Linked DNA regions of Homo sapiens. The protein of the gene in region 1 purifies or fractionates together with the protein of each later gene. This does not show direct contact. Each region holds a gene or a part of one and is shown in the gene's direction. Other genes may lie near its edges. The genes, in order: CDCP1, LRFN1, MAN1A1 and LEPR.

The links.
Region 2: the proteins of CDCP1 (region 1) and LRFN1 purify together in Homo sapiens (affinity purification with mass spectrometry; 2 studies listed by BioGRID and IntAct, with this or other methods). This does not show direct contact.
Region 3: the proteins of CDCP1 (region 1) and MAN1A1 purify together in Homo sapiens (affinity purification with mass spectrometry; 2 studies listed by BioGRID and IntAct, with this or other methods). This does not show direct contact.
Region 4: the proteins of CDCP1 (region 1) and LEPR purify together in Homo sapiens (affinity purification with mass spectrometry; 2 studies listed by BioGRID and IntAct, with this or other methods). This does not show direct contact.

The regions. Positions count from the first base shown.
Region 1 is NC_000003.12:45,143,136-45,151,249, reverse strand, and holds the start of CDCP1 (CUB domain-containing protein 1 isoform 1 precursor), read left to right. Parts: upstream 1-4,871; 5' UTR 4,872-4,962; coding exon 4,963-5,044; intron 5,045-8,114. UniProt on the Homo sapiens protein: May be involved in cell adhesion and cell matrix association. May play a role in the regulation of anchorage versus migration or proliferation versus differentiation via its phosphorylation.
Region 2 is NC_000019.10:39,310,607-39,317,888, reverse strand, and holds part of LRFN1 (leucine-rich repeat and fibronectin type III domain-containing protein 1 precursor), read left to right. Parts: intron 1-1,752; 5' UTR 1,753-1,807; intron 1,808-2,515; 5' UTR 2,516-2,552; coding exon 2,553-3,958; intron 3,959-7,282. UniProt on the Homo sapiens protein: Promotes neurite outgrowth in hippocampal neurons. Involved in the regulation and maintenance of excitatory synapses. Induces the clustering of excitatory postsynaptic proteins, including DLG4, DLGAP1, GRIA1 and GRIN1.
Region 3 is NC_000006.12:119,178,480-119,185,761, reverse strand, and holds part of MAN1A1 (mannosyl-oligosaccharide 1,2-alpha-mannosidase IA), read left to right. Parts: intron 1-5,334; coding exon 5,335-5,450; intron 5,451-5,816; coding exon 5,817-5,943; 3' UTR 5,944-7,282. UniProt on the Homo sapiens protein: Involved in the maturation of Asn-linked oligosaccharides. Progressively trim alpha-1,2-linked mannose residues from Man(9)GlcNAc(2) to produce Man(5)GlcNAc(2).
Region 4 is NC_000001.11:65,423,481-65,430,762, forward strand, and holds part of LEPR (leptin receptor isoform 1 precursor), read left to right. Parts: intron 1-1,822; coding exon of another isoform or gene 1,823-1,898; intron 1,899-4,301; coding exon of another isoform or gene 4,302-4,323; exon of another isoform or gene 4,324-4,529; intron 4,530-6,381; coding exon of another isoform or gene 6,382-6,568; intron 6,569-7,282. Other genes in the region: LEPROT (leptin receptor gene-related protein), read left to right, coding at 1,823-1,898, 6,382-6,568. UniProt on the Homo sapiens protein: Receptor for hormone LEP/leptin. On ligand binding, mediates LEP central and peripheral effects through the activation of different signaling pathways such as JAK2/STAT3 and MAPK cascade/FOS.

The DNA.
Region 1 (8,114 bases):
ATCCAAAACCACTTTGATTTTTGTTATTTTCTGTGAGACCCTTTTCTTGCCTCTGGAAGCTACAGAATCTTCTTTTTTGTTGTTTGTTTGTTTCCATCACCCAGGCTGGAGTACAGTAGTGTAATCTCGGCTCACTGCAACCTCCACCTCCAGAGTTCAAGTGATTCTCGTGTCTAAGCCTCAGGAATAGTTGGGATTATAGGCGTGAGCCACCACGCCTGGCCTAGAATCTTCTTTTCGTTATTGGTTTCTGGTATTTCACCATGATGTGCCTGGACGTGAGTCTGCCTATATTATCCATTGTGCAGGGCACTCCATGACTCTTTTAATCTGGAAACTCATGTCATTCAGGCCTGGAGAATTTCTTCACTTATATTATTGATGATGTCGTCTCCTCTGTTTCATCTGCTCTCTCTTTTTAGGAAACTTATTTTTCAGATGTTGGATTTTCTGAACTGGACCTCAAATTTTCTTTACTTTTCCCTCCTACTTTTTATCTCTTTGTCTTTTTGCTTTACTTTCTGGGAGCACTTCTAACTCTTCTATTTATTTATTATTATTTTTTTTATCTACAATCACTTTTTTTCATTTCCAATAATTCTTTTGTGGTTCTCTGAATCTTTTTGTTTGTTTTGTTCTGTTTTTGAGATGGAGTTTCGCTCTTGTTGCCCAGGCTGGAGTGCAGTGGTGCAATCCTGGCTCACTGCAACCTCTGCCTACTGGGTTCTAGTGGTTCTCCTGCCTCAGCCTCCTGAGTAGCTGGGATTACAGGCACACACCACCACGCCTGGCTAATTTTTTGTATTTTTAGTAGAGACAGGGTTTCTCCATGTTGGTCAGGTCGGTCTCAAACTCCCAACCTTAGGTGATCCACCCGCCTCAGCCTCCCAAAGTGCTGGGATTACAGGTGTGAGCCACCACACCCGGCCTTGTTTTGTTTTTTATAACATGCTGTTCCTGCTTCACAGAGAGAATGTTGTCTGACACCAAATTATAGTTGCCTACATCACTCTAAGAGAGTTAGTAATTTTTTTGTTTTGCTTCCTTTTATTTTCTTCTCTTTGTATAGTCTTTCAGGTTGCTTCTTTCTTTCTTTCTTTCTTTCTTTCTTTCTTTCTTTTTTCTCGGTTTGGTTACTTGGTTGGCTTTGACTCTAATATGTTAGAAGCTCTCCTCAGATATCCTGAAATCCTGATTGCTCATGTTTAAAAGTGAGATATTGGCCAGGCACAGTGGCTCACGCCTGTAATCCCAGCACTATGGGAGGTTGAGGTGGGTGGATCACATGAGGTCAGGAGTTCGAGACCAGCCTGGCCAACATGGTGAAACCTCATCTCTACTAAAAATACAAAACTTAGCCAGGCGTGGTGGTGTGCAACTGTAGTCCCAGCTACTTGGGAGGCTGAGGCAGGAGAATCGCTTGAACCCGGGAGGCAGAGGTTGCAGTGAGCCGAGATCGCGCCATTGCACTCCAGCCTGGGTGACAGAGCGAGACTCCATCTCAAAAAAAATAAATAAATAAAAATTAAAATTAAAATGAGATATTAAAAAGCTAAGTTGGTGGGGCTTAATTGAAAGCCTCATGGTAGGAAGCTGGTTGGCCTGTTTATGAGGGTCTAATGTCCATATGTTTGGGTCTTTCCTCCTGTGCTGGTCAGACTCCCCAGAAGAAGACTTTTTCCATCCCCAATATGGATAACAAAGCCTTTTTGTCTCATCCTTGGATGCAGGTTGGGGCCAGACAGCTGGGGATCTCAGCATTCAGAATGCATATCTTCCCTTTATTTACCTACTTTTACAATGTTTCCTATGCTTTCAGCTATGCCTGGCATCCCTCAGCCCACATCCCTAGGTTTTAATCTCTCCAGAAGACAACACTAAAGTTGTTAAGCTTACCAACCCTCTAACTTGTCAAGATCTAAAGATCGATAATATAGGCAGACTCACATCAAGGCACATTATGGTGAAATTTCAGAAACCAATGAACAAAAAGAAGATTCTACAGCTTTAGAGGCAAGAAAAGGGTCTCAAAGAAAATAATAAAAATGAGAATGGTTTTGGATTTCTCAAGAACAACACTGGAAGCTGGACGAGGGACTGTTGCCCAGGCAAGGGTAATGATGGATGGGTTCTGGGATCTAACCACAGTACTTCTCAAACAGCTTTCTTCTAGCCTTTCTTGTTTAACTCCTCTTTCACCCTCCAGTTGCAGAATACCTTGTGCTGCCATTTCCTGAGGATCTTTTTTGAGGATTTCTGTGTTAATCGTGTTATTTCTGAGTTTTCCCCACTACTGGCTTAGGGTTCTGCCATCTCCAGGCTCCTAAGGCAGCTACCACTAGTCCAGCTGCTGTCTAGCTTCCAGGGTGATTTTGCTGTTGTCTTCTCTCTGTTCTTCCCACCTTTGTGGGCTTATGTAATTTTTTTTAATCCCTGTTTTACAGCCTTTGCAGGGTTTCAGAAGAGGTCAAAATTAGATGGGACAGTCTGTTTTAAGACTCACCTTCCTTTTTTTTTTTTTTCTTTTTTTAGAGAGAGAACTTTACTCTGTCGCCCAGGCTGGAGTGGAATGGTGCAATCTTAGCTCACTGCAACCTCCACCTCCCAGGTTCAAGCAATTCTCCTGTCTCAGCCTCCTGGGTAGCTGGGACTACAGGCGCCCGCCACCACAGCCGGCTAATTTTTGTGTTTTTAGTAGAGATGAGGTTTTGCCATGTTGGCCAGGCTGGTCTCCAACTCCTGACCTCAAGTTATCCACCCACCTTGTCCTCCCAAAGTGCTGGGATTACAGGCATGAGCTACTGCACCCAGCCGAAAATTTACCTTTCAATCTCTCATTTCTCTCTAGCACTAGATTATAGTTACCTACGTTGCTTTCCAGTTCAGAAATAACCTTTTAAAATTTACTCCTTCCATTCAGCCATGTTTGTAAAGACAAAACATGTCCATTCTTGGCAATGCTTTGTTCACACTCCACTTGGAGGACCAGGACAGTATGTCAGGACATCTTTACTTCAACTATGTAGTTGGGTTGTCACGCAAAGGATGCTGAAGTGCCTCCCTATTTTCTTCTTTCTCGTTGCTGCTACTTTCTGGAACCACCACCAATGCTTCATATTTGGGAATTAGTGACTCTCATTCCATTTTCAGAAAGCTGGTGTCAACTATCCCAAGAAAGACAGTTAAGCAAACTTTGGAGAGACGAAATAGTAAGGAAATAACTTGTTCCTTAGGCTTAACTTGTCAAGCAATATTTCTGATATTTTGCATTCAATACACTGCCATTCTAGTACTGTTGTGGGTATTACTGTATGTGGGAAACAATGGTGTCATGGATGTTAGGAAAAGATGCTGGGATATATATGCCTGCTTAGAATCAGGAGAAAAGACAAATCTCCTTTCACCCTCCTGGTCAGCATAAATATTTTTAAAGATTGTTTAGATTTTTGTCAAGATTTCTTTCTCTTGATGAATTTGTCCTCGATTCAGTGGGGAGAACCAAGAGCCTCTCTTCGTTTCTCATCCTCTCCCTTCCCTCTAGTTCTCAGTTTTCCCATTTTTCTGCACAAGGACAGAAGTGGACTAGAAGATTACATCTAAGGTCCCGTTTAGCTCACGATACAGGCCCTCCCAGAGGTGGGGGTGTGGGCAGGGTCATGTTCCAAGTTCTGCCTCCCTCGATGGACTGTGGGCTCCCAGAGGGCAGAGCTAGCTCTATTCTCATGATTAAGGACATCGAGAAGGAAGGGGTGACGCTCCTAGGAGATGATTTCCCACCCCTGTCCACAAGGAGGATTGGGGCAGCCTGGAGAGGCTCAGTGCCCGCAAGAATTAAGCAGAAGTTGGGACTGGACTGTAAACTGATGCTGTCGCACATGCTTTGGTTCCTGTCCCAAGCCTCCCAGGTTGCTCCGGGTGACTCTGGCCCAGCTTCTGGCTATCCATGAACACAAGTAGTCCCAGGGAGTCATTCTGGCAGAACCCAGGTCTGCTAGCTAAGAACTCCTGAACCATCCGCAATCTCTGCCTGTGGCCTGGACTTGGTGTATGGCCGGCAGGGTGGAAGGAGAACCCACAGGGCCTCTGAAGACAGGCAGGTGGCACACCTGCGGCTGGGAGGATTTGGAAAAGGAGTCCAGCGCCATTCATTTTTCATTCATTTTCCAGCCCAACGTTTGACCTGAATGCTTCACGCTCACACTGCACACACTACTCCATTTATAATACAACTCGAGAAGGGCACATACTACTCCATCCACAGCTCAGTGAAGGGATGCATACTACTCTACTCACAATTCAACGAAGTGGTGCATCTGCCTCTAATTTACTAGCTACCCTGGGGACCTTGGACACGTTGCGTGTCTGGAAATACTGCAGGTGATGTGTGTGGAGTAGGCTGCAGGCTCACCGTCCTGCAAATACTAGCTGTACCACCACCGGCTTTAAAGTCCAACAGACCTCTGGCCCAAGTCAAGTAGCAGAGGATCCAGGGCTTGGGTGGCCCACAAATAGGATTCTTCTCCAAAACGAGGCGCATAATGGCCTTTGTCTCCTCGACAGAAAAGGGAAGGTAGACTGGCTTCCTCTATGGGCGACCTTCGCGACTCTGGAGAAAAAGACCTCATCATTCTCAGACTTGGGAAGGAAGACTAAGCCCGGAAAGGTGGGGACAAGTCCGCTCCAACGCCGCAATGGGGAGTAGTAGGGACCCAGCAACCCGGTGCCGGGAGCCCTGCACCCTGGGAGGGAGAGGCGGTCGCTGAGGCAGGAAGAGGAGGAGGAGAGAGAGGAGGGACGCACCGGGTCAGCTCGCGATCCTGCTGCGCAGGGCGGGGCTCGGGCCGGTCCGCCCGCGCGCAGGTGAGTGAGCCAGGGCGGAGCGCAGCTGCGCCGGGCTTGGGCGCCTGGGGCCGCCGCTCCCCACCGTCGTTTTCCCCACCGAGGCCGAGGCGTCCCGGAGTCATGGCCGGCCTGAACTGCGGGGTCTCTATCGCACTGCTAGGGGTTCTGCTGCTGGGTGCGGCGCGCCTGCCGCGCGGGGCAGGTGAGTGCCGGGCTTTGGAGGCGGATGGCGTGGAGTGGTGAGCTAGCCAGCCAGCGGACGCCCGGCGGAGATGCGGCCGAGGGACGCAGGGTGCGGAGGGTGCGGAGGGTGCGGAGAGAGGGCGGGGACGGCGTAGTCAAAATGCGCGGGTGGCTCCGGGACCCCCGGACTGTTCGGTTCCTGCGCGCGCCGCGTCGGGCGCGTGGGCCTTGCCCTCCTGGAGTCAACCTTGCCCTCGGCACGTGAGAGTGTCCCCGATCGGGGAGCCTCCCGGTCCGGGAGGATGAGCCCGGTGCTGGCCGAGAAGGCGGGAAAAGGAGCTCCCGGTAGCCGATCCCAGGCGACATGTCCAAGGTGGCGCGCCGTGCGCCCCAGGGTCTTTGCCGGGATTCTTGAAAGCACCCAGGCAGGGTGTGGGAAGAGATCTTTCCTCTCCAGGCTCGCCCTCTACCTCCTCGCCTGGTCCAGAGAGAAGGTGCAAAAAAAGTGCTTTCACGTCCGCATTTCCCACTAGATCCCCTTTTTCCCGTCCGCACGCTGCATTCCCCCTCTCCTAAAGTTGAAGAGCGTTGGTGCAAAAATGAAAGCGCCCGGATTTCTTTTAGGGGGTCCCAGAGAAAGCCGCCAGGCATCTGCGCCACCGCAGAGACTGGACATTCCCGCGCCCCTCGCACTTTTTGGCAGTGGACTTTGAGGGCAGGAGGCTGTTGTTCCGGGGATATGTGTGAATTTCGAGTTGTTTCGGTTGGGGGAAGGGACCAACACGTCCCAGTGACCTGTGCCAGCCAGGAAATGCCCTGTGGGCCCTGGATGTATTAGAACGTAGTAAATAACCTGGTTTCTTCATGTAAGAACTTGATGTGAGGCTAGTACAGGTTTCGCGAGATTAGTACAGGTTTTGTGTTTTTTAAATAGAGCTCTCCAGGAAGCCATGTGGGTTTGATTCCCCTTGCTGCATCTAGGGTGGATTTGTGTTTGGCAGGTGTAAATTAGATAAAGGAATAAAAGGACGCAAGTGAGGTTGAATTTGGGCGTCCCGGTGACTGCCGTCTTTACAAATACAAGACAGGAGCTTCTAAAATATCAATATAAGCTCCAGGAATACTTCCTGGTTCATTCTCCAACATCAGGTGACATATTGCTGCATAGTAGATAGAAAATTTAAAACTTCATTTAAACCATGGCATGGATTTATAAATATATATATAAATTATATATATTAAAGTAGAGACAGGGTTTCACTGTGTTGCCCAGGCTGGTCTCGAGCTCCTGAGCTCAAGTGATCCTCCCACCTGGGCCTCCCAAAGTGCTGGGATTACAGATGTGAGCCACTGTGCCTGGCTGATGAATATTTACTATAATTTCTTAGGACTGAATTTCCAAGATTCCCTTTGAAGAAAAAGAATTAGTTTAAGAATAAAAAGGAAGTGAAAATATGTGTATATGTGTGCTGAGAAAAATGCGTGCCTACCAGTCTTGGAACAGTATTGAAACTCTGGGAATTATCTGAGATGTTTTTGGCTTTCTGTGACAACAGTGGGGAACTCTTCCAGTCAGAACAGGGTGTTAATCAAGGCATTGCTAATAATGAGAGCCTCTGTTCCTGGTCTCATTTCTCCCTGTGATCTGGGAAGGCTGCCATTTTGGTCCAGTAACTCCAATGGAGTCCCTTCCAGGAAGTCCTTGACTGGCTGAGCCCTGTCTCATGGTTCAATACATAAATACGTAGAAACCTAGGAACTTTCCCTTTCGCTTTCTTAAGTTCCTCCCTATGGTCTCAGGAACTGGCCCTTTGAGGGTACATCAGGCTGAACTGAGAGCTTTTGTGGTTGGAGTAGTTGCCTGTAGTCTTGAGGATCTAAGTGGCAAAGGCCTTTGAGAAATTCCTGGAGACTGTCCTGAAAGGATACAGAAAGCCAGAGCCCTGGCACAGTGGATTTGTTTTATAAATCCATGAAGTCTCTTAACAAAGAAAGACTCAGCAGAGTAAAAATGAATTTGGTGTCACTGCAGAGATGAAAAGTAAAGGAAAGTTTGTGTCTTGGTGTCGTGTGTTTGTGTGACTTTGGTATCCCCACCAACTCCCCCATTTCCAAGAGTGAAACACTGGTTACATTGGGATCATAGCCTTTTGAAAACCTCCATTTGGTTGCTTTCTAAGAACCACTCAGATACCAGAGTCTGGGTCAGTGACCCCAATCTTGCCACCATTGTCTCTTGCCAAAAATGTGAGCAGACAGATCAAATGATATATTCACACTCCCTGGGTGAGTGTGGGTGTTCATTCTGTTTCCGATTCAAATGAGGAGCTACTGGCTGTTGTCTGGAATGTGTAACTGGTAGCGCTGATGAGTCTCCCCCATCTCCTCCCCCACATCCCCACAGATTTGCATGACTTGGAGTCAGACCTGTTAGCCCTAGGGCTCACCTCAGATGCTGCCATTTCATCTATGATGGTTGCACGCCTTGCATGTGCACACACACACTCTTCTGGGTGTTCTCCCTGGCTATCAATATGGGGGAAGGAAGTTAATAATTAAGATGTTTTAAGTAGCATATAGTTATTGTAGAAAAAGTGGCAATAAATATAACCAAAATGGAAAAAAATTATCTATAAGCAAACTGCCTTATTCACTTTGATGCAGTCTTCTTAATGTGTATGTATGCACGCTCATGTGCACAAACCAAAAATGGGATCATCCCATTGTATGGCTTTAACCAGTCCCCAGTTGTTGGACATTTAAGTTGCTTCCAGTTTTTCTTATTAAAAATAGAACACGTCCAACAATAGCCAGCTGCTTGTATCAATTTTAATAGGTCTATTCAGTGAAAAGGCACTTGAAATTACATAGCACAGACTAGAAAATGACATGAAAGGATGAACCATTATCCTCATGTTGCCAAGGTTATAAAATGGTATCAACTGGATTATCCCATTTTGATGTATCTAAGAATGTGTTCTTCAGCTGTGTTGTTCTGCACACTCTTTTTTTAAATTTTTGAGACAGAGTTTCACTCTTATTGCCCAAGCTGGAGTGCAATGGCGCGATCTCGGCTCACTGCAACCTCC
Region 2 (7,282 bases), on another chromosome or scaffold:
TCCTGGTGGCTGAGAAAGCTGGAGAAAATAATAAATTAGTAATAATAATAGTAATAATAATAATGATAATAGCAGCAGCTCACATGTATATAGTGTTTACTTTGTCAGGAACTATTCTAAGCATGTCATAAAATATTATCTCATTAAATCCTCATAGCAACCTTATGAGGTGGGTGCCATTATTATTCCCATTTGACAGATGAGCACACCGAGGCACAGAAAGGGGAAGTCACTTGATTAAAGTCACACAGTGGGGAGGTGAGGTCTGAACCCAGGCAGTAGGGCGGATTCTGTCCTGCAGTGCTGCACCACTCTCCATAAATGTTAGCTATTTCCATTGCTATTATTATTCCCTCCATTTGAGTCCTACCCCAGCTGTCGGAGGCGAGGCTCTGGACTTCTGTTTCATAGACTGGGATTCTGAGCCCTGAAGACCCCACAGCCAAGCAGGGGCAGACTCAGGCTCCTAATTCTGGAGTCCCCCTTTCTAGGCCAGGGTTTCCAGTACATTGTAGAGTAGTGATCTAGAGGGAGTGAAGGACAGATTTGGGGTGAACTCAGAGATGGTAGGACACCCCGATCCGGCCTCTTTTTCCGCCTTCAGCCCGGTCATTGTCTCTCTTACTCTCTGTCTCTTTCCTCCTCTGTCTTTTTCTCTCTAATACTGTCTCTATTTTTCTCTCCATCTCTGTGTCTTTTTTCTGTGTCTCTCTCTTTTCTGTGTCTCATTCTTCACTCTCAGTTTTCTGTCTGTTCACCTTCCTTTCAGACTCATCTTTTTGTCTCTCTGTTTCTCTCCCAATCTGTCTCTCTCTCTTTGCCAGTCCACTTCTCCCTCCCCCTGGTCTCTCCTTGTCTCTCTTCACCTCTGTCTCTGACTTTCCTGGTCTCTGTCCCAGGCCCCCTCCCCACTGGCAGGAAGATCAAAGCCACCTAAGGCCGTAGCCCCAAACACAGATTCCTGGGAGGTAGGCCAGCAGGGGCTAGGGTACAGGGCAGGGTGGGGTGAAAACAGTTTTAGGGACGCCCCCTTCCCATCCTTTCCTCTTCACCCCCCGCCCACCCTGTGTTGTGATGGGAACTGACATGTCGTGGGCTGCAGCCGCCGCAGGGGGAATCCCTGCCGGAAGGTTTTGCCTGGAGCAGAGACATAGCGTGAGTGTGTGAGTGTGTGAGTGTGTGTGTGTGTGTTGTGTGTACCCAAAGATGTGAGCATGAAAGTCTGCCTTGCTTGGGAGCTCAACTGAGCCCAGGATGAAACCAGACCTCAGAGAAGGCCTTCCTGAGGCTGAACTGGAAGACTCTGATGTGTTTTCCTCAGTCCCTCCCACTTTGACACTCTCCCTGCCAATGCCAGAGGCGGGAGGGGGGAAACCCTTAACATTTATTGAGTACTTACTGTATGCCAGGCATGGTCGGTGGTACATGAATGAAGATGGTACAATTATCATCCCAATTTACAGATTAAGAAATTACAGCCTAGCTAGGGGAAATCATTGGCTTGGGGGTCACAGAGCTAGCAAAAGGGGAATCAGGATTTGAACCTGAGTCTGTTTGATTTCAAAGTACTTACTCTCAATAATAGGGCACTGTTCTATGCCTGGTACATATTAAGCACTTGATGATCATGATGATGATTGCTAACATGTAATAAGCACATTTTATATGCCTGGCACTATTCTAAGTATGCTATGTTCATCAATACATTTAATCCTCACAGAAGTAAGGCCTGTTTCTATCTCCCTTTTACAGATGAAGAAACCGAGAATCAGAGAGGTTCAGATACTTGCTGGAGGTCACACAGCTAGTAAGTATCAGAGCTGGGATTTGGAGCTAGGGAGTATGGCTTGGATAGCCAGGGCCTTAAACCATAGTTAACAGTGATTTTTTAGACAATTTAGTGGGTACTGGAGGGCCCAGGTTGGGCCAGGTGTCACCCCTCTGGTTGGGAGATCATGAGAGGTTTGGGAGCTACTACAGGAGGGGCAGAGGTGAGGGTGGGACACGCAAGTAGGGACAGGGGTATTCTATCAACCAGTATAGAGATATTTTTATTTTTATTTATGTTTTAAGATGGAGTCTTGCTCTGTCGCCCAGACTGGATTGCAATGGTGTGATCTCGGCTCACTGCAACCTCCACCTCCCTGGTTCAAGCGATTCTCGTGCTTCAGCCTCCCAAGTAGCTGGGATTACAGGCGCCCACCACCATGCCCAGCTAATTTTTGTATTTTTAGTAGAGACGGGGTTTCACCATGTTGGCCAGGCTGGTCTTGAACTCCTGACCTCAGGTGATCCGCCTGCCTCGGCCTCCCAAAGTGCTGGGATTACAGGCGTGAGCCACTGTGCCCAGCATGGAAGTGTTGTAATCTGTTGTTAATAGCTGATAGTGGCTTCCTCTCACCATCCTATGGAACCCAGCTGTAGGCGGTAGGGGAGGGATCCAGGCCTGACTCGTAGCAGGACATCCCATGGCGGCCAAGTCCCACGCCTGGGTAACCGGCTCCTTCCCCGGCAGGTCTCACCTCCCACCCCTCCTGCCTTCCCACTGCACCATGGCTCCAGGACCCTTCTCCTCGGCCCTCCTCTCGCCGCCGCCCGCTGCCCTGCCCTTTCTGCTGCTGCTCTGGGCGGGGGCATCTCGTGGCCAGCCCTGCCCCGGCCGCTGCATCTGCCAGAACGTGGCGCCCACACTGACAATGCTGTGCGCCAAGACCGGCTTGCTCTTTGTGCCGCCCGCCATCGACCGGCGCGTGGTGGAGCTGCGGCTCACCGACAACTTCATCGCCGCCGTGCGCCGCCGAGACTTCGCCAACATGACCAGCCTGGTGCACCTCACTCTCTCCCGGAACACCATCGGCCAGGTGGCAGCTGGCGCCTTCGCCGACCTGCGTGCCCTCCGGGCCCTGCACCTGGACAGCAACCGCCTGGCGGAGGTGCGCGGCGACCAGCTCCGCGGCCTGGGCAACCTCCGCCACCTGATCCTTGGAAACAACCAGATCCGCCGGGTGGAGTCGGCGGCCTTTGACGCCTTCCTGTCCACCGTGGAGGACCTGGATCTGTCCTACAACAACCTGGAGGCCCTGCCGTGGGAGGCGGTGGGCCAGATGGTGAACCTAAACACCCTCACGCTGGACCACAACCTCATCGACCACATCGCGGAGGGGACCTTCGTGCAGCTTCACAAGCTGGTCCGTCTGGACATGACCTCCAACCGCCTGCATAAACTCCCGCCCGACGGGCTCTTCCTGAGGTCGCAGGGCACCGGGCCCAAGCCGCCCACCCCGCTGACCGTCAGCTTCGGCGGCAACCCCCTGCACTGCAACTGCGAGCTGCTCTGGCTGCGGCGGCTGACCCGCGAGGACGACTTAGAGACCTGCGCCACGCCCGAACACCTCACCGACCGCTACTTCTGGTCCATCCCCGAGGAGGAGTTCCTGTGTGAGCCCCCGCTGATCACACGGCAGGCGGGGGGCCGGGCCCTGGTGGTGGAAGGCCAGGCGGTGAGCCTGCGCTGCCGAGCGGTGGGTGACCCCGAGCCGGTGGTGCACTGGGTGGCACCTGATGGGCGGCTGCTGGGGAACTCCAGCCGGACCCGGGTCCGGGGGGACGGGACGCTGGATGTGACCATCACCACCTTGAGGGACAGTGGCACCTTCACTTGTATCGCCTCCAATGCTGCTGGGGAAGCGACGGCGCCCGTGGAGGTGTGCGTGGTACCTCTGCCTCTGATGGCACCCCCGCCGGCTGCCCCGCCGCCTCTCACCGAGCCCGGCTCCTCTGACATCGCCACGCCGGGCAGACCAGGTGCCAACGATTCTGCGGCTGAGCGTCGGCTCGTGGCAGCCGAGCTCACCTCGAACTCCGTGCTCATCCGCTGGCCAGCCCAGAGGCCTGTGCCCGGAATACGCATGTACCAGGTTCAGTACAACAGTTCCGTTGATGACTCCCTCGTCTACAGGTGGGTGCGGGTGCTGCAGTCCCAGGGCCTCCTCCCAAGCCCAGGGGGACCCTCCCTCCCACCTGCCCATTCCCTTGGCCTTCTTGCTCAGCCAGGGTTCTAGATGGCTGTGAGAGCTGTTCCCGCCCTCCTTTGCCCTGTCTCCTCTCTCTATTTCTCACTGTCTCTGTTTTTCGTGCTTATAGAAAATATTCGCTGAGCACCTACATGAACCCGACCAGGGCTGGGCACTGGAGTCCTAACAGTGACTGAGCTCAGCATGAACCCTGCCCTCATGGGGCTCATGGTCGATATCACTGCTCCCCACAACAATCTGATTGTGCACCTCTTCAGTTAAACATTTTGGAGCATGAAACACACACACACATTTACAGTGACATTTATTTATTTGTTTGTTTTGAGACTGAGCCTTACTCTATTGCCCAGGCTGGAGTGCAGTGGCACGAACTCAGCTCACTGAAACCCTCCGCCTCCCGGGTTCAAGCGAATCTCGTCCCTCAGCCTCCCAAGTAGCTGGGATTACAGATACCCACCAACACACCCAGCTAAGTTTTGTATTTTTAGTAGAGACAGGATTTTACCATGTTGGGCAGGCTGGTCTTGAACTCCTGACCTCAAGTGATCCGCCTGCCTTGGCCTCCTAAATTGCTGGGATTACAGGTGTGAGCCACCGTGCCTAGCCTACAGCGACATTTATATTTATAAATTATATACCAGTACTACTGAACCAACACATTGGGTACATTACAGAAACAGAAAACAAAACGTATGAGAAAAATATGTTATTTCCACCCTCACTTGGGTTTGAAGCCATTGCCCTGGTGGGGACAGACCATACGGTGTCAACAGACATTTTAAAAAAAGAGTTATTTTCTCCCATCGCCTCCTTATTTCTCCTTTCACCTCTCTGTCTGTCTCTACCTTCTCTGCCCTCGTTAGGCACAGAGCCCCTGCTTTGTGCAAACTCCTGAGCTGGGTGCTGGGGACACAGGGAAACCACCCAGACCCTGTCCTCAGGGAGCTTATAGCCCAGTAGGTCGTGGTCCATAGTACACTATGAGTTGCAGTCCTGGCCTTGCCATGTCTCTCCATCTCAGTAGTTTTTTTTTTTCTTTTTCTTTTTTTTTTTTGGCAGGGTCTTGCTCTGTCACCCCAGGCTGGAGTGCAGTGGTATGATCATAGCTCACTGCAGCCTCAAACTTTTGGGCTCCAAGCAATCCTCCTACCTCCTGAGAGTAGCTGGGACTATAGGTGTGCACCACCACACTGGGCTAATTTAAAAAAATTTTTAGTAGAGATGAGGTCTTGCTATATTGCCCAGACAGGTCTTGAACTCCTGGGCTGAAGTGATCCTCCTGCCTTGGCCTCCCAAAGTGCTGGGATTACAGGTGTGAGCCGCTGCACCTGGCCCATCTTGGTAGTTTTTTAGTATGGCTCTCTGCCACAGAATTGTCACACAGTAGGCACTTGATAAATGGTAGTTTGCCACATGGATGTCTCTCCTTCTAGCTCTGCCTCCCTCATGCACATTGTAGAGCACCAGTTAAATGCTTCAGTCATCTGCTTGGCTTCACCTGGAGATGCCAGCGGGGCTGGAGCTGTTTCCCTACCTGTGGAGAGCCCCAGCTCCTGGCTGTCAGATCTTCACCGAGAAACCTGCCTCTTGGCCTCCATCTCTGCCTTTCCAGTGTTTTCTTGGCCATAGGTGTGGCACATAGTAGGTGCTTTCCCAGTGTTGGTTGAATGAAAAAAATGCCTCTTGGCCGGGCGCGATGGCTCATGCCTATAATCCCAGCATTTTGGGAGGCTGAGGCGGGCGGATCACTTGAGGTCAGGAGTTCAAGACCAGCCTGGCCAACATGGTGAAACCCTGTCTCTACGGAAAATACAAAAATTAGGCAGATGTGGTGGCACGTGCCTGTAATCCCAGCTACTCAGGAGGCTGAGGCAGGAGAATCGCTTGAACCTGGGAGGCGGAGGTTGCAGTGAGCGGAGATTGCGCCATTGGGTGACAGAGCGAGACTCCCTCTGGAAAAAAAAAAAAAAAAAAAAAAAGCCTCCCTTTTCTTTTGTCTCTGTCTTCCTCATTTCCCTCTCTTTTTGATTCTGGTCCCAAACACTGAGTAGATGCCTACTGTGTGCCCATCTTGTGTTGGGCCCTGGGCCTACTGAGATAGGTTAGATCCTGGCCCAGCCTTACAAACATGAGGACAAACAAATGAACAAAACACAAACCTTCACAACGAACTTCCAAGCTTGATCTTCCCAGCTCCGCTATGAAGGCGTGATGACCCCCTCTCCATTTCAAAGACAGAAAAACTGAGGTTCAGTGGGGGATGTCACTTGCCCAAGGTCACACAGAAAGTAGCAAAGCTGTCCTTTATACACTGACACACATTTGTTGGGCACCCACTGCTTGGAAGGGAGATGGATAATATATTTCTGTAAATAATTCTGAGCTTCTGTGACTCTCCACTTCTCTGTCCCTCTCTTTCCTTTGCTCTGAGCCATGGCCACCACATGGTGGGGTGGGGGAGGTTCACAAGCCCCCAGACCCTGCATGGATGCAGATGTTGATGGCCCCCTGTCCCCAGCTGGGCAACAGACCCTGGGACTCTTCTCTTCCCTGTAGGGCCCCAGTTCCAGTTCTCCAACCCCCATTGCAGATTCCTATGCTATGGTGCCGCAGGGGTTAACTTCCTCACGCTGTCATGGGCGGAGGTGGCAGCCAACCAGAAGCCTGCTTAGCTGCTTGCTTTAATTCTGCAGCCAATTAGAGACACTTGGGCTGAAGCTTTCTTAAGGAGCCAGCCTCTGTCCTTGAAAAGGGGTGGGGGAAGCCCCTAGCAACTGGCTATTTAGGGGAAGGAGCAAGTGGAATCCAGGGCTCTGGAGAGGAGAGATGAAGAGAGGAGGAGGAAGGCTTAAAGCCAGGGCAGCCGAGGGTGGCTGGGGTGGGTGGCAGTGGTCTTTGAAATGGCAGTCAGGGGTGGGTAGAGTGGAGTTGGAGAAGTGGGTGGACCTTTATGAAGGGGCGGGGCCCTGATTGGAAGTCTTTTGGTGGGAGGGTGGCTCTTGGTAGTGGGAGAACCTCCTGGAGGTGGGATGACAGAGGTGGAGCTTCAGGGCCAGAAGGTGGCTCTGCTGGAGGGGAAGCGGAAGCATCGGAGAGATAAGCAGGCCTTCGGAGGTGGGGATGTGGCCTGTCAGAGGGGGTGGAGCTTGTTCTGCATGGTCCCACGAAGAGGAAGGGGCAGTCCTTGTCTCCCGGGACCCACCAAGAGTCTTTGCTGGAGAAGAGAGCTTGTGAGGTTGCATCCTGGC
Region 3 (7,282 bases), on another chromosome or scaffold:
TAAAAGTACAAAAAAAAATTAACCAGGCGTGGTGGCGGGCGCCTGTAGTCCCAGCTACTCAGGAGGCTGAGGCAGGAGAATGGCATGAACCCAGGAGGCGGAGCTTGCAATGAGCCGAGATCACGCCACTGCACTCGAACCTGAGGGACAGAGCAAGACTCCAACTCCAAAAAAATAAAGAAAAACTGGCTTATATTGAAATTATGGTCAGTGTTAGCTTCTCCATTTGCTACCGTTGAGTCACATCTCCTTTGCACTGTGCTTTTTCACCCATACTTTCAGTTTGTAAAGTATTTGTAAGCCGTCTTCCTATCTTCTAACAAAGCACTCCCTTCCCAGCCTTCTTTCACTGATACACTTGAGAAACCTGCTTTCTGTGTCTTAATTAAATTTCTAATAATAATGTCAAATAAGATGTGAAAAGGTATATAATCCAGCAGTACAACACTAGAGAGTTCTTTTGTGGGTTAACAGCACTCCATTAATCACAGGTGTTCAAGCACTTGTGAGTCTGCCTGACAGAAATAATATTTAACTGATAATTTCTTTTGCTTTTTCTCAAAAATGTCATGAAAGCCAGGCGTGGTGGCTCAAGCCTGTAATCCCAGCATGTTGGGAGGCCGAGGTGGGAGGATGGCTCAAGGATAGGAGTTTGAGATCAGCCTGGGCAACAAGTCATCACCCTGTCTTTACAAAATTTAAAAATTAGCCCGTCATGCTGGCACACTCCTATAGTCCCTAGCTACTCAAGAGGCTGAAGAGGGAGGATCACTTGAGCCCAGGAGTTCAAGGTTATTTTGAGCTAAGATCACACCGCTGCACGCCAGCCTGAGCAACAGAGCGAGACTCTCTTGAAAATTTTAAAAAAAAAAATCATGAGAAACTGACAAATTCCTTCCATTTAAACATCTGATAACTTACAGCATGAGCTTTATCAGAATATTGTATGTATATATTCACATAGATTATATAATGTCTCAGCTGATCTATGGTAAAGGGTAAAGCCTTACCTAGGGATTTGGGATTTTTTTTTGGCTTTAGGGGGTTTTTTTTTGGTAGTTTCAGGTTTTTTGGTTTTGTTTTTTTGCACAGACATTTTCTTTGCTCTTCTAAACCTAACCTTTTCCACTCAGACATTTCGACTCTCAGGAAGTGACTTCTTTTCCTCCTTCCTACTCCTGCCTCCTCAGGCTTCATCCTGTTTCCAAACCCTCTTTGATTTGTTCAAGGTGCCTGATTCTCTGTGTTCTATCCTTGAGTTCAGACGACACTCAAGCAGACAGCCTTACTCCACGGATCAGCCATTTATATATCTGGTAGGCAAGAGAATACTCTTCTGTCCTCTGACTTAGGATTTAACTCATGATGCTTGCTATTTTCTTACCTACCCTTCATCCTTTGTTTAGAGCTCCAATCATTATAAACATTCTCATATCCTGTTCTCTGCTATTTGCACATCCCAGTCACATAGGATCACTAATAATAGAAGCATTTACTCAAAACCAAGGTGGTCCCCATGCCTAGAGGCTGAGAATCCCAAGAACAGATTATAGTACAATGATGATCTGGTTAGACTTAGTCATACAAACACATGACAGCTTCCACTGTTGAGATGCTGATAGAATCAGGGCTGTTGTAAGGGCCCAGGAAAGCTATTTGTCCCCAGCTTCACGTTCCTAAAGTCTTAAAATCTAGACTTTTGCGTAAGGGGTGAGGGGGAGTTCTTGGGTGCTTTTCCTTTAAAAAAAAATTTTTTTTTTTTAATTTACCAAAAACTTCAAAAGCAAAGTGACTGGGCCTCTCTAAACCTCTGAAGCCCTTGTTATTGTCTAAGCATTTCTTCATTTTGTTTTATTCTCACGTACAACCCCATGTTGAGAAGGAAGATGCTGCCTGGGACATGGAACCTCTGGGGCCACTGATAAGGGGGTCTCAAGCTGGAAGTTGGCCCACTACTCAAAATTTTTGGCTGTGTTCTTGAATACTATAGCTTACCCCAAGAGGACTTGTGGGGAACAAGAATGAGAGGGTGAACTAGAAAGAAAGGTGATTAGGCATTGTCCACCCCAAAAGCAACTCCTCTAACAAAAGAAGGAGCTTAGAGCAGTTTCCATGGAGAGGAGGAGTGGCTGTTTATCATGGCTGGCCCTCTCATTAGCTCATTACCAAAAAACCTCAAGGGAACAACTAAGAAAAGGTTTTGGGATTAAAATCTGTTTAAAGAAATATCCGGAAATAGGGTTTCCCATAAAAACCTTGCCCATTTTTTCTAAATTCTGATTTTTTTCCTTTTTTTAACCAATAATTTTTGGCTTATTCTACATATCTGGTATTTGACTCTTTGTCAAAAAAAAAGGAGGAAAGAAAAAATAATAGGACTTGAAAGTTTCTTTCTTCATGCTCATCCTCCATTTGACGCACTGTCTGGAACTTAGAATTTAATCGAAGCATCTGTTTTTAAGTTGATCGGTCTTATTTTCTTCGGGGCTTTTTAAAAGTATGAAATCATGAGGCATTTTCTTTATTTTCTTTATTCATGTGGCCTGCTGGCCAGAATTTCTTTAACCAGGTAATTAAATGCTTCTCCTCATAGTCTCTCTGCTCTCTCCCTTCTGTCCTCCAGCCCTGATGTGAAAAATCAATAACCTCATTATCAGTATCTGCAGATGGGAGCTGAGCTCTCAGTGCAACATCTCTGCTCATGAGAATCCGTGGCTGGTACTTACTTTCCCTCGCCTCTTTTCTGGGCTCTACATTCTTAGAGCCTTATTTTCCTCCAAAATCCTTTCTAGCCAGAGAAGGTTTTTCTCAACTGATAAGGCAAAGTCTATGCTTTCCATCTTCTTGGTAGTTGGATTAAATGGGAGAAAAATGGGGTACAATTATATATGTAAAAAAAAAAGAGGGACAGAATTATGATCCACAGGGGAAAACTGAAACGTAAGTGAAAAATGACATGAGAAACTAAGAGTAAGTATATCTTGTTTACATTTTCTTTATTTCACTATAAAATATATTAGGGTTTTAGTCTTAAACTTTATTATTTTTGTCTACAGTCAATAAATGAGAACCAGATTGCAGATGGCAATTTTTGTACGATGGAAATTTTTATTTGACCATATAATTAATAGGATTAGTAGGATGTGATGGCAGAAAATAACTTTCCTAGAGATGAATATGCCTGGTAACTAGCAGAGCAACAAATGTAATTTCAAAATATAAACAGCACAAAAAAAAAAACAACTCAAAATGAATTAAAGACTTAAATGTAAGACCTGAAACCATAAAACTCCTAGGAGAAAACAACAGGGGAAAAGCTCCTTGACATTGAGCTTGGCAATGATTTTTTGGATTCGACCCAAAAACACAGGCAACAAAAGCAAACATAAACACATGAAACTACATCAAACTAAAAAGTTTCCTTACAGCAAAGGAAACAATCAACTAAAAACACAACAAAAATGTGTGCAAACCATATATCTGATAAGGGGTTAATATCCAAAATATATAAGGAACTTACAATTCAGTAGCAGAAAAACAACCTGATTTCAAAATAGGCAAAGGACCTGAAGAGACATTTTTCCAAAGAAGACGTACAGATGGCCAGTAGTGAAAAGATGCTCAACATCACAAATCATCAGGGAAATGCAGATTAGAACCACAGTGAGATATCACCTCATACCTTTTTAAATGGCTATTATCAAAAATTCAAGAGGTAATCAGTCTTAGTGAGGATGCAGAATAAAGGGAACCTTTGTACACTGTTGGTGGCAATGAAAATTGATATAGCCATTATGGAAAACAGTATGGAGGTTTCTCAAAAAATTAAAAATAGAGCTACCATATGATCCAGCAATCCTAATTCTTGGTGTATATCCACAGAAGATGATGTGTATCCACATCAGAAGATGATGTATATCCACCACAGAAGATGGTGTATATCCACAGAAGTAGTGTATATCAAAACATCACACTGTACACCTTCCAGTATATACTATTTGTATTTGTCATACATCGGTAAAGCTGGAAAAAGGTTAAAGAAAAATAGAAACAAACAAAAGAAAGAAAGTGGGCTCTGAAAGGGAAAAAGAAAACACAAACAGCAGCCATCTTAGTGGTAACCAACAAAGTGGAAGGCAGGTTGGTTTAGGTTGTTACCTAAATGTTCATCCTCACACTGCCCAACCCATCTGTTTTCCAAATATTCATTAAATTCAGACAACTACAGAAATGTAGGATCATTTCTCTCTAGAGAGTTGTCAGTGGAGTCATCCCATCTTCTTCCATACTAGACTGAAAAAAAAAAAAAACATGTATTTTAGGAATAGATCCCAGCCACATGTCTCTCACTGTCTTTCATTTTCTTCTTTTAGCTCTGTTACCAATATCACTGATGAGTACCCTACAATCAATTTTCAGAAACTCAGATACTCTGATTATAGAAGCAGCTGATTTTGTTCCAGTACGGTTTCTCAACCAGTGGTTTATGATCCCAGTTGACATTAGCAGTCTCTCCAAACTAGGGGTCAGCAAACTCTTTCTGTTAAGGGCCAGACAATATCAGGCTTGGGGGACAGCCAGCTAGTCTCTTTTGCATCTACTTAGCTCTGTCATTGTAGTACAAAAACAGCCACAGACAATATTTAAACAACATGGCTGTGGTTTAATAAAAGTTTATTTACAAAAATAAACAGTGGACTGGATTTAGCCTATAGTTCATACTTTGCTAAACCCTGCTCCAGACCATAGGGGGAATTGGTAAAAATCAGTGAAAAATTTTTCCAAAACTAAAGGCAGAAGTGTTTCAAATTAGGTAAGATATGTGGTCCATATGTTCTATGACTTCATTTTTAATTTACATTTAGTTTATGGTTTTAATTTTTTTTTACCTAAAACTCTATAACAAACTTTCATTTAATTTGAATCCAATTTGTAAAAAATAAATTTTGACTGGGCACAGTGGCTCATGGCTGTAATCCCAACTCTTTGGGAGGCCGAGGCAAGCAGATCGCTTGAGCCCAGGAGTTTGAGACAACCATGGGCAACATGGCAAAACCCTATCTCTACAAAAAATACAAAAAATTAGCCAGGCATGGTGGCGAATGCCTGTGGTCCCAGCTACTTGGGAGGCTGAGGCAGGAGAATCACCTGAGCCCAAGAGGTAGAAGCTGCAGTGACCCATGATGGTGCCACTGTACTCCGCCCAGGCAACAGAGTGAGGCCCTGTCTCAAAAAAAAAAAATGTTTTATCTGAACTTGACAATCTAATAATAAAAATTAGTGACAATCAGTTTACTGAAATGTGACTTTTTTTTTTCCTCCTCTATAATTTAGGCCTTGGAAAACCATTGCAGAGTGAATGGAGGCTATTCAGGCCTAAGGGATGTTTACCTTCTTCATGAGAGTTATGATGATGTGCAGCAGAGTTTCTTCCTGGCAGAGACATTGAAGTAGGTGAAAATTATTCTAAAACCATGTGGCTAAGGTACCTGAACAGATCTTTGTAGATGTCTTTATCATGAACACATTCAAGTAATATCAAGTATGCCTGATTCAGAATATCAGGCATGGCTATAATTGCAGGTATATTCTCAATAACTAGGTTCAGTGACTTGGTACTGCTAACACCAAAGCACTGAGTAGCTGCTTTACCCCATGTTAATGAGTATAACCCCTCAGGGTTTTGATATATTTGACTCTTGTCCATGTTTCTTGGTAAGATGAATGCAGACATTGATGTGGTTTTTGCTGTGTGTTTGTGGTTTCACTGCCTGCCTAGTGTCTTGGGCCTCATATACTTATGTTTCTCTCACCAGATATTTGTACCTAATATTTTCTGACGACGATCTTCTTCCACTGGAGCATTGGATCTTCAATAGCGAGGCACATCTTCTCCCTATCCTCCCTAAAGATAAAAAGGAAGTTGAAATCAGAGAGGAATAAAAAGACATTTTATATTTTATTCTGCTCCATTCCCTTCACTGTATACCTTAATAATTCCTTTTCTGGTAATCAGGCACATGATGAACTTTGATTAGTAGGTCTGTGATTAAGTTCTTAAATTGTTTTGCAGTCTTTTATGTTTATTATCATAGGTATAGGTGGACCTAAATTCCTTATCATATCCTTTATTAATTCAGCCAGTGTATCCACCAGTTTTTTGTTTATGTTTTTAAGTAACCTATTATCTCTGGATTTCATGAAGGTGTAATATCGTTTTTGTTAAACTGAATAGAATTGTATAGCGATGACCTCTTAATTATAATTTGATTTGACTGCAAAACTTTTTCCTCCTCTAAGAGGAGATGATGTCTGCTTTAAGCTGTAATGTTTTGCCATGTTGCAAAAAGCCATAATAATAAGTATAAAAAAGCTTTTTCCTTTACAATTTCATGTTAATCTGGTTTGTCTGTCCACCAGAGACAGATCTTCTGTGACAGCCTCCTTATGCAGGTCTATCATTATTTGATAGAATGTCTTCTAAAATACTTCACTCACATTGTAATTCAAATTAGAAAGTCATTCCAAAAGGATCATGTCATGTTGACCTCATTTCATCGGAACTGCAGTATATTTTTGTTGGTTAATTATATTAGTGTTTTCTATTTTGTAAATGTGTCCTTTAATTTTACTTTAAATGCCCTGTGTCATTTCTGGATTATATACTAGTTAATTTCTTCCATTCCCCACTACACAGAGAGGTGAGCTTTCAAATTTTGCAGAGCTCTGCTATCACTGAATTACATTTATCTGAAGAAAATAGTACAACTTAATGGATTAGCTTTTGGGTTTAACTGAATATATGAAGAAATTGGGTCTGTCTAAAGAGAGGGTATTTCATATGGCTTTTAGTTCACTTGTTTGTATTTCATCTTGATTTTTTTCTTTGGAAAATAAAGCATTCTATTTGGTTCAGATTTCTCAGATTTGAAAAAGGCTCTATCTCAGATGTAGTAAATTATTTCCTTTCAGTTTGTGAAAGCAGGATTTGACTCTGAAAGAAGCTTTGCCAATTTTACTTATTCGTGATCAATCAAGGAAAATCTAATAAATTTTAGGCCAAATAAGAATATAGCATATTTAGTATGGTTATAGTCAACACAGAGATCACAACTTAGAAGAAATATAAAGAAATGGCCACTCCCCATCCCCCACAGTCCTGGAGTAAATCAAAATCAATATATGATTCTTTTAAACATTAAGTTTGAAATAGGAATGGTTTTCTCAAGAATAGATTTGGTGTGATACCTTGTGTTTGCTTACATTGGCCCACTATATATAC
Region 4 (7,282 bases), on another chromosome or scaffold:
ATGGAGGAGGGGGTACTGCCGATGGTCAGGCACAGAGGAGAGGAGCAAAGCCTGCTGGGAAAAGATCATCTGAATGAAATAGTATGTGGTATTTGCTTTCCATCCACACATGGGCATTTTCCATTAAAGAGTGGAAATGTAAAAAGATATGTTAAAATTGACAGTGTTTCTTTGTCCCTTAACATGTGTATACTTTCAGATGTTTTTTAAAAAGCACTTTGGCACCTTCCTATTAAAGAGTCTCTCTAAATCTTCTCTCAAGTAAAAGGAAGCAATCAAAAATGTTCATTGGCTTAATTAATTAGTTTAATACTAATTATGAGTATTATGGACTTTTTTCAGAAGAAAATTTGGATAAGATAGTCTCCTATGCTTTTGATTTCTACCTTTATCAAAGAACATTGCTAAAATGAGTAGATACCTGAGTCAGTCAGCATTTATTTGGCTACCTCCTTTTGCCAAGCACTTTACATAGATTATCTCATTTAATTCCCATAAGCTCAATAAGGTGGCACCATTATTTCCATTTTACAGGTGAGAAATCAGGTTCAGAGGATTAGCTTCTACCCAAAGTCATAAGACCAGATGGTGGCAGAGTTAAGATTTGACTCATGTTTGTGACTCAGAGCTCAAGATTTTGTAACAACCTTGATACTCTGTTTCTCACTCAGCAGCACAACAAGGGCAAATACGTTCCTACTCCCGCAGAGACTAGTGTCCAATAGATACAGGGAATACATATTTTATTCAGTGCACACTAGTTGGGAATTGTTTCCTACAAAGACATGAAAACAATCTTCAAATACTTGCAGTACTGTGGTTTGGGGAGGCAAAATGATCAAAGGTATATATTACAGGGAGGCAGTTCTGGATATAATTTAAAGAAGGAGGGCTTTCAACATTTAGAAGCTGTTGGAATTAAATGACTTGCCTTGGGAGGTAGTGAGTTTTCCTTCACTGGAGTTATGTGGACCAACTGGCTGCCCTCTGGTGACAAATACAGAGGGAATTCATCCATTGGATAGGGGTTAGGTACTGGAATTACTTGAGACCTTTGTATACTTTATGATTTCAAGGTGGCAGACATGGGTCATTGTCTTAATCAGTTTGGGCTACTATAAGAAATATATTTTAGACTGGGTGGCTTAAACAACAAACATTTAGTTTCCACAGTTCTGAAGACTGGGAAGTCCAAAATTGTGGTGCAGTCAGATCTGGTGTCTGGTGAGAGCCAGCTTCCTGGTTTGCAGGCCTGCTTTCTGCTCTCACATTGGAGAACAGAGGGAGAGAAACACAGAGAGAGTGTGTGCTCTACTTTCTCTCTTCTTATAAGGGCACTCATCCCATCGTGGAGACCCCACCCTCATGACCTCATCTGAACCTAATTATCTCCCAAAGGTCCACCTCCTGATAGCATCTCACGGTGAGAGGGATGGAGCCGGGAAGGTTTCAACATGTGAATTTGAAAGGGACACACATAATGCAGTCTGTAACGGGTCAAATGTAACCTCAATAAAATGAGTAAATTGCTACATTTGCTTGAATTTGGGACCTTTTTTTCTTTCTTTTTTATTTTAGTAAATGTTTTTATTGATAAATGATTCACATACCATAAAATTAACATTCTTAAAGTGTAAGATTTCATGGTTTTTAGTATATTCAGAAGGTTATGCAGCCATCACTACTATCTAATTCCAGAAAATTTACTCATCCGCCAAAGAAACTCTGGACCTATTAGAAGTCACTCCCCATTTCCCCAAACCCTCTAGTGCCTGACAACCTCTACTGTGGGAACTTTAACTTTTGGCTTTATTTTTCACAGCTCTCGTGGCATTATCCTTCAGTGGGGCTATTGGACTGACTTTTCTTATGCTGGGATGTGCCTTAGAGGATTATGGGTAAGTTATCATTTCAAAAAGAACTATTCCTCTTTCTGTGTCTTTGTCACTATTAGTATGGGTGTTAGAGAGTTCGGTCAATTTAGCACCAAGTTCTAACCAGTGAGTTAGTGGAGCCCAGTTTATGAACACAGTCCCTTTGTGGGTCAGGTGTACTTTTGCAGAGGGCTCTGTTAAAAATTGATGTATTCATTCCATAAGCATTTGTTTAACACCTACTCTGGACTAGCTGGGGACACACAAATGAAGAGAGAGTCCTGTCCTCAAAGAGGAGGTAAAGTTCTAGTTGTGAGTGAGAGACAGGCAAACGGTCTAGTCAGTAATCTGGCAGCTGCAGTGGAGATGCCAGCACAGTACGCTGGAGCTCGGATAAAGTGCACCTGAGTTTCAGTGGGACAGTCAGGGAAGGCTGCATGGCAGAGGTTGTATCTGAGCCAAGACTAGGTGGATGAATAAGAGTTTTTCAGGGTGATGAGTCAGGGGAGGACATTCCAGGCAGAGGGAACATTCTACACATTTTTTCATTCAACCATTGTTGGTTGAATGCTTCCCATGTGCCAGCTACTGTTATGGGAACTAGGGATTAAGACATAAGAAAACAAAGGTCCTGCTCTCTCAGAGTTTGTGTTTCAGTGGGGGAGACGGACAGTAAACAACAAAAGTATGCATACTGTCAGAGGTAGAAATGGTACAAAAGATGAAGAGCACAGAAGCTGGGAAGACAGTGGTCAGGGAGGGCCTCTCAGAGGAGGTAAAAAGTGAGAAGAAATGTCAAGAAAATCAGCAAGCAGGCCATACAGATCTCTAGGGAAAAAGCACTTTAGGCACCAGGAAAGCTGAATGCTAAGGCCCGGAGACATGAAAGTGTATATAGCCTTTTCAGGAAACCACACATGGTACATTATGGTACAGCATAAATTGTAGTGGAGTGGCAAAAGAAGGGTTAGTCAAGAGTGTAAAAGTCAGCACTTAGGGCTCTATATGCCTGCCGTGTAGAGGAGGTTCCATTTTATACATCAGACAATAGAACCTGGGAAAATATCTTGAGAATGGGTTTGGAGGAGGGGGTTATGTTAAAATGTCATTCTTGCCATAACGTGAGACTAGATAGGAAAGAGCTGAGACTGCAGTCAGGGAGAATAGTAGGGGACTACTATCATAAATCAAGCAAAATTGAGGGCTGGGGCAGTAGGAATGGAAAGAAAAGGAGAGTGAGTTAGGAAACCAAACCAACCAACAGGTTTTGTTCATCGATGTCAGGATTCAACAAGGAGGGAGAGTTCTTAGATGTCTCCCAGGTGATTGGCTTGAACAACTAGATAGAAGATGATGTGATTAGGCCAGGCACCATGGCTCACGCCTGTAATCCCAGCACTTTGGGAGGCTGAGGCGGGCAGATCACGAGGTCAAGAGATCGAGACCATCCTAGGCAACATGGTGAAACCCCATCTCTACTAAAAATACAAAAAATTAGCTGGGCGTGGTGGCACACGCCTGTATTCCCAGCTACTTAGGAGGCTGAGGCAGGAGAATTGCTTGAACACAGGAGGTGGAGGTTGTAGTGAGCCAAGATCGTGCCACTGCACTCTAGCCTGGCGACAGAGCAAGACTTTGTCTCCAAAAAAAAAAAAAAGATGATGATGATGTGGTTAAGACCTATTGAAGTGAGTTATTATGACAGTGATGAATTCAAATCCATCACCGCAGTCCTGGCCAACTATTACAGAAATTGTTTAAACCCAAGAGGGATCCAGATATAAGCGGTCACTTATATTTGTTTAGAGCCTTCACAGCAATTACTTTATTCTAGCTTTTGGAATGTAATACGGTATTATTATCCTCATTTCTCGCTGGGAAACCAAAGCCCAGGGTAGTTAAAGACTTACCCAGATTGAACAGCAGTAAGTGACAGAGCCCGGCCGTGGTGGCTCATGCCTATAATCCCAGCACTTTGGGAGGCAACGGTAGGAGGATTGCTTGAAGCCAGGAGTTTGAGACCAGTCTGGGCAACAAAGTGAGACCCCATTCTACAAAAAACTAAAATAAGCCAGGCATGGTGCCTGTAGCAGGGTTGGGAGGCTGAGGTGGGAAGATTGGTTGAGCCCAGGGGTTGGAGGCTGCAGTGAGCTGTGATCACACCACTGCAGTCCAGCCTGGGCGACAGAGTGAGACTTTGTCTCTTAAATAAAAAAGTAGAAAAAAAATTAAAATGGCAGACATGGAAATGGAGCTCATGTTCTGACGCCCTTGACCAAACGTTTTTCCACTATTCCACAACCAACTGTAAATCTAGGAGTTTTAATTCTCTGTGATACACTGTCTTTGTAAGGTAAGAAAATGACTCATTACTGCTACTACAAATAAGTTTGTTTTCTATCTTTATTTTAATTTTTTGTTTTTTAGAGATGCCACAACACCCAGCTGATTTTTTTTAGAAGTTTTTGTAGAGACCGAGTCTCTCTGTGTTGCTCAGGCTGGTCTTGAACTCCTGGCCTCAAGTCATCCTCCTGCCTTGGCCTCCCAAAGCTGTATCTTGATAGTGAACCAGGATTATCATCTATATTGGAAGTCAGCAAACTGCCACATATAACCTGCTACCTGTTTTTGTAATAAAGGTTTTATTGAAATACAGCCATGCTCATTTGTTTATGAATTATCTTTGGCTGCTTTTGCATTGCTCTGCCAATTATCTTTGGCAGAGTTGAGTAGTTGAGATAGTCTTTATGGCTTGCAGATCCTCGTTATTTACTCTTTGGCCCTTTATAGAAAAAGTTGGCCCACCCCTGGCCTATGTATTTATTGAATTGTATATATTTAATATTTACATTTTATATATAAACAAGGTTTCTTGTACATTAATATTTCTCTTAGTTGGATATCGGTGGCTTACTATGAATGAAAACATAGAGTCAGATTGTTTTTCACAAAACTGTCACTGTATTCCAGGAAAAATTAAGAGTTCTTGGCTGTGGATATGTAAGGTGACATATCTATTCCAAACCCCTTCCCCTCTCTGTGTCTCCTTTCTCACTGTTGAAAGAAGGGCTTTGAAGTAGAGAATGTCTAAGGGCTACTTCCCACAATATTGTTTGGTGATTCTTGAAACATACTATCATCCCTCTAGTTTAAAATCAGGGGTCCAAATCCACTGTTTCCATCCTGAGTCCTCTTGAAGGACACATTCCCTTCTTGCCTTTTGGTTGCCTAGATCTGTGGCTGGAATGGGAGGCTTTCATTAGTGTGGCTTCATCCCAACTCCTGCTTGTAGGTGCTGTCTGGGCGTATCTGTGTGATTACAGTATTGTGGTGATATGAATTATTGTAGTGTATATATAAAAATGAGCAGAGACTTTTTTTTTCTTAAGAAATGAAGCATAAGAAATGTCTGATGGAGAAAAAAAGATTATTTTTGAAGTACTGATAGAGAAAATACTGTTGGAAACCAGATGGCAATTTTTTTTTTATAATTGCAAAATGTTGAAATTTGGGAGGAAAACAGTTTTGTTTTGTTTTTGCATTACACTATTAATTGTGAGCTCTTATAATGAAGATCAAAGTACATCTAAGCTTTTCACTAGTGAGCATATTTATTTTCATGCCTTCCGTACTTAAAATTTATTTATTATTTTATTCATTTAACAAGTATAAATGGAGTACATCATTCTAGGCCCTGGAGATAAATGGCGTTTGATCAAGACTAATCTATCAGATGGGAATAAGTGTTGTGCAGAAAGTTCAAAGAGGGTGGTATGTTCGAGGGTGACCTGGGGTACATTAGAATAGATGACCAGGGAAAGTTCTGCTTTTAGAAAGGAATCTGTCAGTTTAGATCACATGGTATGAAGGAGTCAGCCAATGAGAAGATCATGGGGAAGGACATTGCAAGCAGGGGGCACAGCTAGCGCAAAGGCCCCAGGATAACAGCTATGAGCTCAAGAGTGTTCAAGGGACAGAAAAAAGGCTGGTGTGGCTACAGATTAAGCAAATGAAGGGAAAAGAGTACAAAATGAATGGAAGAAGTAGATAATACCAGACCATAAAGGCTTTGTAGGCTAGGGCAAGGAATTTAGGGTTTATTCTAAGCTCTTAAAAGGTTTCAAGCATGCGTGCACTCAAAAGATCTTTACCGAACTAGCTTTTGCAAGACACTCTACTATGTTCTATAGGGAAGGCAGAAATGACCAAGTTAAAATTCTGTCTTTAAAGAAATTGTGGCTCAGTGGTACAGAAAACAGTAAAGTTTCTAGGGTATATATTATATAGTGGCTTCTTAACACAATATAAGCTACCTACATAGTAATTTTAAAATTATCACTACTTATCTATCCCTGGTAGAAATCATCTTATGTTCTAATATTCACAATTAATTAATTTTTTGACCTAAACATTTAAAATAGCAATGATTTTGAAATAGTAGTATGTCTTTCATTTAAAATGTAACTGTTACTTTTCTTTTTGGATTTTGCCTGGGTCCAACTGACAGCGTTTACTGGCCCTTATTCGTCCTGATTTTCCACGCCATCTCCCCCATCCCCCATTTCATTGCCAAAAGAGTCACCTATGACTCAGATGCAACCAGTAGTGCCTGTCGGGAACTGGCATATTTCTTCACTACTGGAATTGTTGTTTCTGCCTTTGGATTTCCTGTTATTCTTGCTCGTGTGGCTGTGGTAAGTTTTATTTTCTATTGTTTTGCCCAACCGTTGCTGAGTTTACTTCAGAGGCCTGTGTCTGGGACCTCCATTTCATGCTCATTACTTAGGCTTTATACTCAAGGCCGTGTGTTTTTAGTTTCTCTGTTCCTCTACTTTAGACCTGCCTAACAGTAGTTCGGCCATGCCTTCAGAGTGCTTTCTTTATTTCTCTTACAACTTTTAGCCAGACGATATGATTTCTTACTTTTTCTACTTTAAGCTATTCTCTGGAATTGTTCTTAAATTCCTGCCTCTTAAATCTTACAGTAATCCACAGATACTATGCTAGCAGTACTTTTCTAGTTGCAAGATGAAGATATTTCAAATTCTTCTCCTGCAAATGGGATCATGGACTCAACTCTCAACTCAGTATAATAGGTATATGTTGAGGGACAACTGTGTAGCTTCCAGAAAATGCAGTGAATAAGTTGACATCTTCACTTCCAAGACAAAAACTTTCTTTTTGTCTTCAGAGTACACATTGTAGGTATAATTTATTCAATTATTTGCTATTCACTGTCTTTCCTACTATTTGATTTTATTCCCTCCAATTACGTTCTATTTTAATTTTATGAAACTCTTATTTGAGGCATTGAATATCAGATAAGCGCAAGTCTTGTTCATTCAATAAATATCTTTGCAACAACTGCTACTTGTAAAACACCAGAAATAAGAAATAGGTACTGTCTC